Homo sapiens: one gene and its partner. The protein of the gene in region 1 purifies or fractionates together with the protein of each later gene. This does not show direct contact. Each region holds a gene or a part of one and is shown on either strand. Other genes may lie near its edges.

The links. Proteins that work in one complex are often made in the same cells at the same time.
Region 2: the proteins of FOXP3 (region 1) and SMYD2 purify together in Homo sapiens (affinity purification with mass spectrometry; 2 studies listed by BioGRID and IntAct, with this or other methods). This does not show direct contact.

What each region holds. Positions count from the first base shown.
Region 1 is NC_000023.11:49,249,938-49,255,117, forward strand, and holds the end of FOXP3 (forkhead box protein P3), read right to left. Parts: intron 4,131-5,180; coding exon 3,980-4,130; intron 3,266-3,979; coding exon 3,189-3,265; intron 1,829-3,188; coding exon 1,727-1,828; intron 1,547-1,726; coding exon 1,397-1,546; 3' UTR 501-1,396; downstream 1-500. Other genes in the region: CCDC22 (coiled-coil domain-containing protein 22), read left to right, coding at 211-324. UniProt on the Homo sapiens protein: Transcriptional regulator which is crucial for the development and inhibitory function of regulatory T-cells (Treg).
Region 2 is NC_000001.11:214,276,727-214,284,158, reverse strand, and holds the start of SMYD2 (N-lysine methyltransferase SMYD2), read right to left. Parts: upstream 3,001-7,432; 5' UTR 2,905-3,000; coding exon 2,732-2,904; intron 1-2,731. UniProt on the Homo sapiens protein: Protein-lysine N-methyltransferase that methylates both histones and non-histone proteins, including p53/TP53 and RB1. Specifically trimethylates histone H3 'Lys-4' (H3K4me3) in vivo. The activity requires interaction with HSP90alpha.

The DNA.
Region 1 (5,180 bases):
GAGGCTTCAGCTTAAAGATGTAGGGGGAATCCTGCCACATGGCGAAGGATGCTTTGGGTAGAGGGAACACCACACGAGGCCTGGCCATGGGACAGAGCAGGCTGTTGGAGTTGGTGGGAGGGGCCCAGAGTGGCTGTGATGGGGGCTGGTGAGCAGGAGCTGGGAAAGGGGCTGTGTGTGCTGAGGGGGCATGTGTTCACATTGCCTCAGATCGAGACAGAGCTGGGCAAGAAGACCCTCAGCAACCTGGAGAAGATCCGGGAGGACTACCGAGCCCTCCGCCAGGAGAACGCTGGCCTCCTAGGCCGGGTCCGGGAGGCCTGAGGAGCCGCCGGCAGAGGTCTCTCCCCAGCCTCAGGCAGGGATTTGGGGTGCTGGAGGCAGTGGCCAAGCACATGCCCTAGCTACTTCCTCCGCTGTCCAGTTCCTCCTGCTGCGGCCTTGGACCCAGACCCCTGCCCACTGACCGCAACCCTTATATGGGGTGATAGTCCAGCATGTGGGGAGCTCGGCTGCAGTTTATTGGGGACGGTACTGTGGGTTGGGGGCCTTGGATCCCAAATAAATGAGTAGTTCCTCTGCAGTCTAAGCTGAGGCATGGATCAGGGCTCAGGGAATGGGAGTGAGGTGAGTGGCAGGGGAGACACGGGGTATTTTTGGCAAGGCAGTGTGTGTGGCTGTGTGTGTCTGCACGGGACTCAAGAGACCCACTGGGGGGCTGTGCGTGTGCATATGCGTGAGATACACAGGTGAATTCTAACAGGCCGTGTGTGTGAGCGAGCACGTGTTGGGACCTCAGATCCTGAGGGTACTGACGCTGCTTCTGTGTAGGCCTCTGGGCACACCCCTGTGTTGACAGTGCCCCTGTGGGCCCTGAGGCTGGCTGTGGGTGCGTGCCTTGGGGTGTGTGGGTTGTCAGGGCTGTGCTTGTGTGTGATTGTGTGATGATGCAGCTTTGAGGTTGTTTGAGTGTACTGAGGCAGGCTCTCTGTGTTTTGGGGTTTGTGTTGAGTGAGGGACAGGATTGTGACATTTTGTGTGTCTGTGTGACTTTTCCAGCCCTGAAGTAATCTGTGCGAGCAGCTGAGGCAGGCTCTGTGTGGCTGGTTGTGAAGGCTCTGTTTGGCTGCAGGGCTCGACTGGGGGGTGTGTCTGGGGCGGAGGTGGGGGCTGGGGCCAGGACCGGGGCCCCTCTGAGCAGCCTTGGGGCAAAGGATATGATGGGGGAGGGGGTGGCTGCCAGCGGGGGAACAGGGGCCCTGGCAGGCAAGACAGTGGAAACCTCACTTCTTGGTCCCTGTGGGCACATCCAGGGCCTATCATCCCTGCCCCCACCACCTCTGCCTCCCACCAGTTTGGCCCCTGTTCGTCCATCCTCCTTTCCTTGATCTTGAGGTCAGGGGCCAGGTGTAGGGTTGGAACACCTGCTGGGCCTCTGGCTCCGTTTCTTGCGGAACTCCAGCTCATCCACGGTCCACACAGCCCCCTTCTCGCTCTCCACCCGCACAAAGCACTTGTGCAGACTCAGGTTGTGGCGGATGGCGTTCTGTGGAAGGCCGGGGACAGGGAGCAGGTGGGCGTCAACCTCTGAGGCCAGCAGCCACCACCAACAACCCACATCCCGTTCCTCCCCAATGTGCCTATGAGCCCAGACCCAGGCCTGCCCACTTTGAGCTGCGATGGCACTTGAGGCCATCCCAGTCACCGCCACCTCAGAGGAGCTCACCTTCCAGGTGGCAGGATGGTTTCTGAAGAAGGCAAACATGCGTGTGAACCAGTGGTAGATCTCATTGAGTGTCCGCTGCTTCTCTGGAGCCTCCAGGATGGCCTGGAAGTTGGGGGGTGGGGTAAGGGGCACATTCCCCAAACTTGGGGTTTAGAGGGGCTATGACCTACCCCGAGCCATCTGACATGGGGGCGGAATTGTAGGGGCAGGTAATCAGGGACAGGACTAGATGTGGGGTGAAGCATGGGGTCAAAGATGGGGTTAGAAAAGGGGTGAAGTGTCGGGTTGGGCAGGGTTAGATGGGTGTGGGTATGGTTGTTCTGGGATTAGGTAAGGGATCAGGACTGAGGTTGGGAGTGGGGTCTTGTTCAGGGCTAGGGCTGAAGTGAGGTGAAAGGTCTGGGATGGAGTTGGAGTTGGGGTTCTCTGTGGAGGTGACATTTCAGGGTTGGGGAAGGTGAAGGGTCAGAAGTGGGGTCAAGGATTTGGAAGGGGTAAAGGGCCAGGCCAACTTAAGGGTCAGGGAAGGGGTGGGTTAAGAGTCAGGCTGGGGTGGACTCAGGTGGGGGGTCTAGGGGTGAGGGATGGGATGACTTGGCTTTAGGTCAGAAGCCAGAGATGGTTTGAATTATCGAGTATCTTACGTGTCAGGGACATGGTTAGGTGGTTAGGCTCAGGGCAAGGATGAGGTTAGTTGTGGGGTTCGGTGTGGAGTGAGGCTGAGGGTCAGGGAATTTGATCAGTTTGGATTCAGGAATGGGATTACAGAGTCAGCGATGATGATTGCAGTGAGGCTATCAGTCAGGATGGGGCTAGGTCAGGGTTTCAGTTCAGAGACAGTCGGGGAATATCTGGTATCATGTAGGGGTGAGGTTCAGGTTTGGGGTTAGGTGTGGCGCTAGGATGAAGGTTCTGAGAAGGCATTGGGGAGGCTGAGATGAAGGAGTTGGGATGGGGTGATGAAGTTAAGGATCAAATGGGTGTTACAAGGAAAGGTTGGGAATGGTGCCCAGTTGGGGGTGTATTGACATACTGGGGTACGTTGGGGCCAGGGAAGGAGATGGGGTTGGGTTGGCATAAAGGCTGGGGAAGGAGTTAGAGTAAGAGCTGGGGTACGTTTAGGGCAAGGTGCAGAGATGGGGTTAGCTTTAGGCTATTTTATGGGTCCAGGAGAGGGTTAGGTATGGGGCTGAGGTGGACATCTGGAAAGGGGTAGGTTTAGGGTCAGAATTTGGCATGCTCTGGCCTGGATGGTGGTTTAGGTTTGGATTTGCGGACAGGTTTGGGGTGAAGCCAGCATGAGGGGTCACATTTGAGGCACGGCTTGGGGATCCTTGGGGCTGGGGCTTGGGAATGGAGGAACCCACTCTGAGGGCACTCAGAGGGAGACAGGAGTTTGGGAGGCAGGTCCCCCACCCCATCTTTGTCTTCCTCCTCCTTGGGGCCGAGCTGCCCTGCTTACCCAGCGGATGAGCGTGGCGTAGGTGAAAGGGGGTCGCATGTTGTGGAACTTGAAGTAGTCCATGTTGTGGAGGAACTCTGTCAGAGGGTGGGGATGAATCAAGCCCCATGCAGGACCTCCTAGCTAGCTCCCTGTCCCCTCCCCCTACAAGGTGAGTCTACAGGCCTGAGATCTCACCGTCAACACCCGTGTCCACGGGCACAGGTACTGTTTGCTGAGCACCTGACATAAGTTGTATCATTTATTCTTTGCACCACTTCTGCCAAAATAGTTCTCCCCGAGGTTGAAAAGAAGCGGAGTAACTTGCACACCAAAGGATGCAAGAGGTTAAATGGCAGAGCCAGGATGACAGTCAAGGTCTCTGATCCCTGCTAAGCCCACAGGCCAGGCCTGGTGGAGAGCAGTGGATAGGTGAGCTCGGGCGAATCCACCCCGATTTTCCTTGGTCAGGGGAGGAAAGGAGGTGCTCCTGGAATTACTTAGCAGGGTCCCTCCCTTCTGATGGCCGAATATAGTAGCTGGAGTCCAGAGTGGGTGAGGCATGGCCCCAATCCCCAAGGGAGTCAGGGCTAGGGGCCCGACACTCGAGACCATATGGGGGGCTTTCAGGCCACGGACATCCCGAAAGGAAGCTTTTGTGAGCGGATGCATTTTCCCAAAGGCTGAGTGGCGGCAGCTGCAGTGGTGGTGGTGGTGGGAAGGGGCAGCATGGAGCTCCTTTGCACCCTCCACCCAGAGCCTGTCAGGATTAGGAGCTTGGGGGCACCGTGTAGTGCAAGGACCATTCTTACCTGGGAATGTGCTGTTTCCATGGCTACCCCACAGGTGCCTCCGGACAGCAAACAGGCTGTCAGGGGCCTCCCGGGGGCCAGACCAGGCTGGGACGACAGGGCCTTGGCTGCCAGCAGCTACGATGCAGCAGGAGCCCTTGTCGGATGATGCCTGGGTGAGGGGGAGAGGCTGGTGACCCAGAGGCTTAAACTTCCCACTTTTTACTTTCTATTTTATGTTTTTTATTTTTTTTGATACTGAGTCTTGCTCTGTCGCCCAGGCTGGAGTGCAGTGGTGCAATCTCGGCTCACTGCAACCCCCACCTCCCAGATTCAAGCAAGTCTTCTGCCTCAGCCTCCCGAGTAGCTGGGACTACAGGTGCCCGTCACTACGCCCAGCTAATTTTTGTATTTTTGGTAGAGATGGGGTTTCACCATGTTAGCCAGGCTGGTCTCGAACTCCTGACCTCATGTGATCCACCCGCTTCAGCCTCCCAAAGTGCTGGGATTACAGGCATGAGCCACTGCGCCTGGCTCCACTTTATTTTTAAATCAGTGTTTTTCAAAGCAAGGACGCCCTCTTCTAAATTCCAGTCTGAGGTGGAATCCCACAAAACAGCATGAGCCGTATTTATTAGAGCACAGGTGCGGATGTCGTATGTGGCCACTGATGCTGGGACCATGAACTGGGGTTGAATAGGGCTCTTTACCACCCAACTGTGACCTTGGGAAAGTCACCTAAACCCCCCTGGCCTCAATATTCCTCATCTGTACATTCGCATCATGAGAAATAAATTACCACCAGCAAAGCGCTCAGAAACAGTGCCTGGCCTCCAGGGCTGGCTTCATGGGCGTGTGACCTATGTGGTTATGTGGCACCCTGTGCTTTGTTTAATGCTCTGTGGTCGCCATCTTGAAATCTGAACAAGGGGCCCTGCAGGTTACATAGCTGGTCCTGCTGGCACACAGCCTGCATCTGGCAAGTCTGGCTATTTGCATTTGCTTTAACAACTCAGGATCACAGTGTTTGGGGATCTTAGAGTCAGAGGGTTTTTTTTTTTTTTTTTTCTTGAGACGGAGTCTTGATCTGTCGCCTAGGCTGGAGTGCAGTGGTATGATCTCAGCTCACTGCAAACTCCGCCTCCCAGGTTCAAGCAATTCTCTGCCTCAGCCTCCCAAGTAGTTGGGACTACAGACACCTGCCACCACGCCTGGCTAATTT
Region 2 (7,432 bases), on another chromosome or scaffold:
AGCTTCCAAGTGGAAAAACTTTATATAATATTATTAGGAGCTGCCTTCTAGCAGTTCAGGCAAGATACGCATGTTCTCCAATGGCACCCACCAGACTGAGAAATGTGATACAAATTAAAAATTCCCCAAAGCAAACCTTTGTCTGAATTGCCCTGACCGTAAGAATCCCATTCTGTTGAGACTTAAGACATTTTCCATTATTTCTCAATTTATAGCATATACTTATTCCTACCTAAAGAAATCACTTTTCTTTTCTTCAAAAAAAGTTAGATCCTGATACAATTAGTATGACATGGAAATTCTTGGGTCATTCATTTATCTTAAGCAGTATTGTTTATGTTAAACTTCTGGCAAAAGAAAGGATAAGGGGTAGCTTTCTTTTGGGTGTGTGGAGCTGGGGCAGGCAGCAGATTTTGACCTGTAAGTATGAACATTTCCAGAATTCTACTCCTATACTTTGAGGCCCTATGGAGGAAAATACACGTTCCCCTCATACATCTGGACAGACTGATTTGTCCTAAGTCATATACAAATTGCTGACAGAGGAACTGATGCTGAATCTATCAGATGACCTAACCACTAATAGTAAATGATTCAGATTTAATAGAAATCATGAAGTAGGGTACAAGGATATTTCTAATTGCATAAGTATCATGGATATTATTTCTTTTGTATTATTTTAATTGACTTCAAATAATTCTTTGGGGAGAGAGAGGAAATAAACTACGGGTATTGACATAAGGTCAGGGAAATCAAACAGAGAAGTGGTTTGCAAGTTGTAATAACACCCCATTGCAAGTTGCAGCCCTGGTGAGGGACCCAAGGCAACAGTGAGTAACACTAATAAATGTCAATCAGAAAAATTTAACAACAAAAGAGGCAGCAAACTGTCACATATGGCAGAATAATCCAGGCTGAATGCTTTGTGAACTTGCATCTGACCATCCATTAATGTTCTAAGGTTGGGGGTATGCGTAGTAGATACAATTAGGAGACTTAAAGCTAAAGAGAAGCATCTCTCAGTTCTTCTCATCCCTTCTAAATCCAGAGGGATTTGATCTTTCATTCACTGGGGGCCAGGGCTGGCAACTACCCATATAAAGTAAGCACCTACTATGTGCCTGGCATCCATGGTCTTAGGCGATGGCTTCCAGGAATTGCCAGGATCCCTGATGGAGGCTCCTTCTGTGCTGCCTGACCTGCTTTGCTCCTGCCACTGCAGACACCCACGCTGCTGCAGACTCCGAGCCACAGCAAGGCTCAGAAGATCAAGGGACCAGTCACAGCAGCCTTTTTAACTTTGGGAAAACCCAATGCTCACTTCACTCAAACGTTGCAAAGTGGTGCCATGACCCTTTAGCTCTTGGCTCACCAATTCAAAGAGCCACATCACATACAGCCCTTAAGCTGCCCACGGCATGATTCCGTGTCTAGTTCCTTTCCAGGTCCCCCCAAGCGGAAGACAGTTCTGGCAGGGAGTCTGGGCAAGATTACTACAATATTTAGCCTTTGTCCCTTCTTTTGCTACGTCTTATTGTAGAATGAGGCACACAGGTCTGAGAGATTGAGTATGCTGGACTTGAGACCTGTACTCAAAAGGTCCCTGCAGGACCGCAGGTCAGCTTAATCCAGCCCAGGAATCTCCATTTCAAAGATGAAGAAACTGAGGTTCAAAGAAAGCAAATCATGGTCTCTACTCAGAGTACTGGAAGGCCTGATATAAACTTAACCCCAATGCCATGCCTCCTGCCTTAGTAAATTTACTGAGCACCTAACCAGTGAGAAATAGGCAGAAGTGAATAAGGCCAGATTTCACTCCCTTCACTACTGGTGTGAATGGATAAAGGTAACTCCACTTTCTCTCTGGGCTTTAGTTTTCTCATCCATTAAGTGAAAGACAAGACTGAATTGGTGATTTCTAATGTGCCTTTAAGCTCTGAAACTCTCATAAGAGTTGAGGATATAATTATGTGTTGGTGTGTGCAAATGTATATGCATCATATATACAAACACAGACACATATATACATATGGTATCTTACAATTAAATACCATTAGCAACCACACATCTTGCCCAATCCCTTCCTGCGACCATGTTTTCCTAATCCCAAACCGAAACTGGACACTGCAACTCATCGTCGCAGCACCTCAGAATCCAGGGGGTGTGGTCAGTGCCCACTGGCGTCCCTCCAAACACCCATGTAAGCGTACTTTAACATGTAAGCGTACTTTACAAGACATATACTAAGTCATTAAATTCCTTGGAAGAAACGGCCAATCTGAGGCAGGGCTGGACTGTGGGTAACAGAACACACCGCAGGAAGCATAAGTTAAAGGTGACAGCCCGTGGCTGCCCAAATTTGGGGCTCCGCTGCCAATGCACCGGGAGGGCAGTGAGTGCCCAGGCTTGGAACAAGCCTGGCTCGGAGCCCACATTTGAGGGCAGGAACCTGCACGCCCGGGTTTGCGCATCCAGCGTGAGCAACTCTGAAAACGTGCAGTGCAGGGCGTGCAGCGGGGCACCGGTCCTGTTTCCTCTCGCACGTGGCGCCTGGCGTGGGGCTGCAGCGCGGGGCCGCAGCGCGGGGCCTCCTCCCCTCCCCGCCCCCCACCCCGCCCCAAGGGCCGGCGCTAGGACCCCGCGAGCCGCACGCACTTCCTGGCGCCGCCGTCCAAGCCTCCCGCTCGGCGCCCCCGGCTCCCGCCCGCCGCCGCCGCCGCCGCCGCCCTACCTGGTGAAGCAGTACTCGCAGTGGTTGCCCCGCTCGTTGACCGTGAGCACGTAGGCATAGGCCGGGCAGGAGAACAGCAAGTCCCCCACCTGGAAGGGCTGCAGAGCCCGCAGCCCCCGGCCTTTGCCCGGGCTGCAGAAGCGCTCCAGGCCGCCGAGGCCCTCGGCCCTCATGGTGGCGGCGGGGCGCGGCCGCCGGCTGTGCCCGAGCTGCGGCTCCCGGCGAGCTGTTATTGGAGACGCGTCACCTAGAGCTGCGGGGGGCGGGGTGGGAGCCGCCCGGCGGACGCGGCGGCGGCTCCCCGCTCCCCGGAAGGGAGGGCGGCCCCGCCCGGGCCTCGCGCGCCCCCGCGGGGAGGGGGACGGGCCCGGCGGCCCCGCCTAGCGCCGCGACCCTCGGCGGCCGCCCCGCGCGCGCTCCGGGCCGTTTCCGGTGTGGCCGCGACAAAGAGCCGCAGCCCCTGTGGCTTCTGCGAGGAGGCGTGAGGCGTGTGCGCCTCCGCGGCGTCTCCACGGAGCGAGCGGGACGCGCCCTCCTCCTCGGTGGGAGGGAGGGGGGTCACCTGCGGGGACCAGGTATCCGAGGGCCACCCCTAGACAGTCAGCCTGGCCCGAAGGATGACCAGCCCCCGGTAAATAGAAGGGGGCGAAGCCAGCTCCGAAACCTTACGTTCGCTGTCCCTTGTAAAGACCCTAGAGGCAGTGATCGGGGAACGCCAAGGAGAAAGCGGCAGAGGGGAAACCACAGTAGAGAAGTTTGGTGTGCAGAGGGTTGAAGTGTGCTTTTCCAAGGTTAGAGGTTTTTAAACCTTGTGGCTTTAATGGGAACGTAGTTTGCCCTCTGCTCCTCTAGTGGAATTACATGGACGGAAGAGGAAATGCATTGGCCGGCCCAGCTCACCGAGTCTCTGAGGCATGCTGCGAACGTTGCAGAGGAAGCCAGAGAGAACCTTGCCTTCAAGGAATTTAGGCTGTTGGGGGATAATGCGATGCTGTGGCCAGTGTCCAGGACACTGCGCTAGAGTTTGCAGTAGTTTTAATATGCTTGACCACCCACGAACTGTGATCTTAGAAAAGTCACTTGGGTTAGGAGTCAAAGGATTTAAAGCCCACAAAGCCTGAAACGTAAATCCTATACACATGCACGCTATTACTTTTCATATGAGAAAGGAAAATATAATCCGTGTTCCACATGATTATGTAAAGACTGGAATTGATGTACATGCAGTAAAGACTAAAATTGTGACGAGATCATTTAGCAGAAACCACTACTTCAAAATAGGACCTCAAACAGTTACCTGTGTAAGTTCAGGACTGGTTGAGCAAAGGGAAAGGATTAATATGATTGGAGATGTAAAATCAGTGGAATTTTTGGCATTTCAGTAAAATGTCTTTATCAGCTGGGTGTGGTGGCTCAGCCCTGTAATCCCAACACTGTGGGAGGCCAAGGTGGGAGGATCATTTGAGCCCAGGAATTGGAGAGTTGGAGACCAGCTTGGGCAACATAAAGACCCCGTCTCTATGGGAAATTAACCACCTCTCAAGTGGTGCTGAGGTGGGAGGATAGCTTGAGCCTGGGAAGTCAAGGTTGCAGTGAGCTGTGGTGACTCCATTATACTCCAGCCTGGGTGACAGAGCAGGACCTTGTCTCAAAAGAAAACAAAAAAGCCCTTATTAGTGGCAAACTAAATAAGCCTCTAACCCGTCTTCAAGTAAAGGAAGTTATGATAGTATTTTCATTTATGCATTTTAAGAAACTTCGACTGACTATGGCCAGCAACTGGGATAGAAAGATGGACATCAGCCGGCTGTGGTGGCTCACGCCTGTAATCCCAGCACTTTGGGAGGCCGAGGTAGGCGGATCACCTGAGGTCGAGAGTTCAAGACCAGCCTGACCAACATGGAGAAACCTCATCTCTACTAAAAATACAAAATTAGCCAGGTGTGGTGGTGCATGCCTGTAATCCCAGCTACTCGGGAGGCTGAGGCAGGAGAATCGCTTGAACCTGGGAGGTGGAGGTTGCTGTGAGCCAAAATCGCACCATTGCACTCCAGCCTGCGCAAGAAGAGCGAAACTCTGTCTCAAAAAAAAAAAAAAAAAAAAAGTGGACAAAATGTAGTCCTAGGTCCTTGCATTTGGCACATTCAAGTTTGATAATACCATTAGTTATTGAGTATTGTTGACCAGGCATCGTGCTCCATCATTAAACACATTATCTGGTTTATCTTTACAACAGGCTAATGAGTTAGGTATTATGCCCCTCATTGCCAAAATTAGGAAGGAAACTAAGACCCAGAAGGAATGATTTTCAAGGCCACACAATAAATTGCAGAATTTGGTTTCCAAGTCAGTCTGAATTCAAGGTCCATGTTCCTAACCACAGTGTTTTGCTGCAAACAAACACAGTTCACTGGGATAAGTGCAGTTATGGTGGCTTGTACAAAATGTTCTGTGGTAGTACAGGCAGGGAGTGACAGCTTTAGCCTGCTAAACAGTCAAGACAGGCATCACATTCAAGTAACGTTAGAGCTGAGCCTGAAGGATGGACAGGATTTTGCAAGTGGAGGTGGGGAGAAGAGTTTTCTGGGCAGAGAGAACTGCGTACAAAGACAGAAGACCCTGAAAGCACAGAGCTTGTAGTTGGGGGCCCCTGAGCATCTGGAAGAGAGGACAGGAAATGAGGCAGGAACAGCTGAAGAGCATCTTCTCCAGAGGTGAGTTCTGCCCCAGAGGCCATGGGAGAGCCAGTTAAAGCGTTTAAGTGAGGGGTGGCACATTGAGTCCAGTGTTTTAGACTGATCTGCCAGCAGCATTGTGGGTTGGCTGGGGTGCCAACATTCAGCACTTCATAACTGTTTACATGTATATAAACAGCCTTGGCATGTGAGACCACTGACAGTTTGCATTTGTCTGTGTGATGACCTGATTAGTGTTTACATCCTCCACCAGACTGTACAAGCTCCATGAGGGCAGGGAATGAGTCTGTTTTTGTTACCCTTACATCACCAGCTCTTATCACTACTCCTGGAACACAGAGAGAATGGAAAAAATATTTAAAGGTTGAATAAACGTCATGGAATCTCATTCTGATTTCTGGGGGCTCTAACCAGCAAAAAGATGAAAAGACTGACGTAGAAGTAAACAATTACAATACAGTAGACAGTTTACTGTTTCAATGATTAATTGTGCAAAGTAATCTACCTGTTTACTTTTTTTATTGCAAGTAACTTTTTCCACTTTAATTGGGAAAGATTTCCACAGCTGAGAAAAAAGCAATTACATAGCTACCGAATTATCTTTCCAGATGAGTGCTGGCTTATTCTTGAGGGTGGAGGTGACTGTGATTTGAGAACACTGGAAAAGAAACCGCCTCATTTCAGAAAAATCCCTGTGATGAACTTAAATGACTCGAGATGGGGAAATGGTCACTGAAGCAGTAGCCATGAATTTAGGAGCTTAAATTACTAAGAAAACTGTGTTTAAAATAAACAGCCAAAGAATGGCAATAAACCAGCCCGGGGAGACTGATGACAGCGCTCTTCATGAAGCCCATACTTGTCACTCTGCCACTCTGTAATCTCACATTCCGTGAAGTCTTTGAGCAGCCAGGACCCATCCACTTTTCCTACGCCCTCTGCTCCATAACGTAGGAGGTATGGAATTTGAAAGGAGTGTTTTTGGTTACTTTGCCTCACTGAAACTCAGGAGAAGTGGTACAAGGACGAAAACTCCTTTGCTTAATTTCTCTAACCTAGAAGTTGATCTAATTTATGAGTAAAAGATCCTTCCAACCACAGATTAGCACATGAAAGAAATAGCTCTGGCCTAGGGAAATGAAGCCTTAGCAAAGAAGGTATCCCAGTGAACGTGAGCAAAGGGCCTAGATGCTGTATAGTTCTGCATCTATGTCTACATGTCACTTATTGAGGACATACTATGTACTTACACTGTGATAGATCCTAGTCATACCAAGGTGTAAAGACCAACATACATGAAAACAGTTATGAAGTGCTGAATGTTGGCACTCATAGATATTAGGTTCCAATCCCTGGAATCTATAAATGGCTTCAAAGGGTCTTGCAAATGTGTTTTAAGGATCTTGAGAGAGTGAGAGTATCCTGGAACATCCAGGTGGGTTCTCTGTGCAGTTGCAAGTTTTCTGATGAAGGACAGAAGGAAATTTGACACAGACAGGAGAGGAGGCAGCAATGTGACTATGGAGGCAGTGATGAGAGGGATACAGTGATGGGCTAAGGAATGCTGGCAGCCACCAGAGCTGGAAGAGGCAAGGAACACCTTTCCCCTAGAGCCTCGGGAGGGAGTGTGGCTTTGCCAATACCCTCACTTCAGCCTGTTAATCTAATTTCAGACTTCTGGCCTCTAGAACTATGAGAGAATAAATTTCTGTTGTTTTAAGACACCTGTTTTGTGGTAATTTGTCATAGCAGCCACAGGGAGCTAATAAAATAATCCAATAAAATTTTAATAGGGAGCTGAACAAAGTGCAGTAGGAAGGCTTCACAGAGAACCTGACATTTTAGCTTCTAGAAGGAAGAGGAAAGATTGACCAAGGGAAAGCAAAGTTCCCAAAATGGGCTTAAGACTAACAGTGCAGAGCTGGGCATGGTGGCTCATGCCTGTAATCCCAGCAGTTTAGGAGGCTGAGGTAGGTGGATCACTCGAGCCCAAGAGTTTGAGACC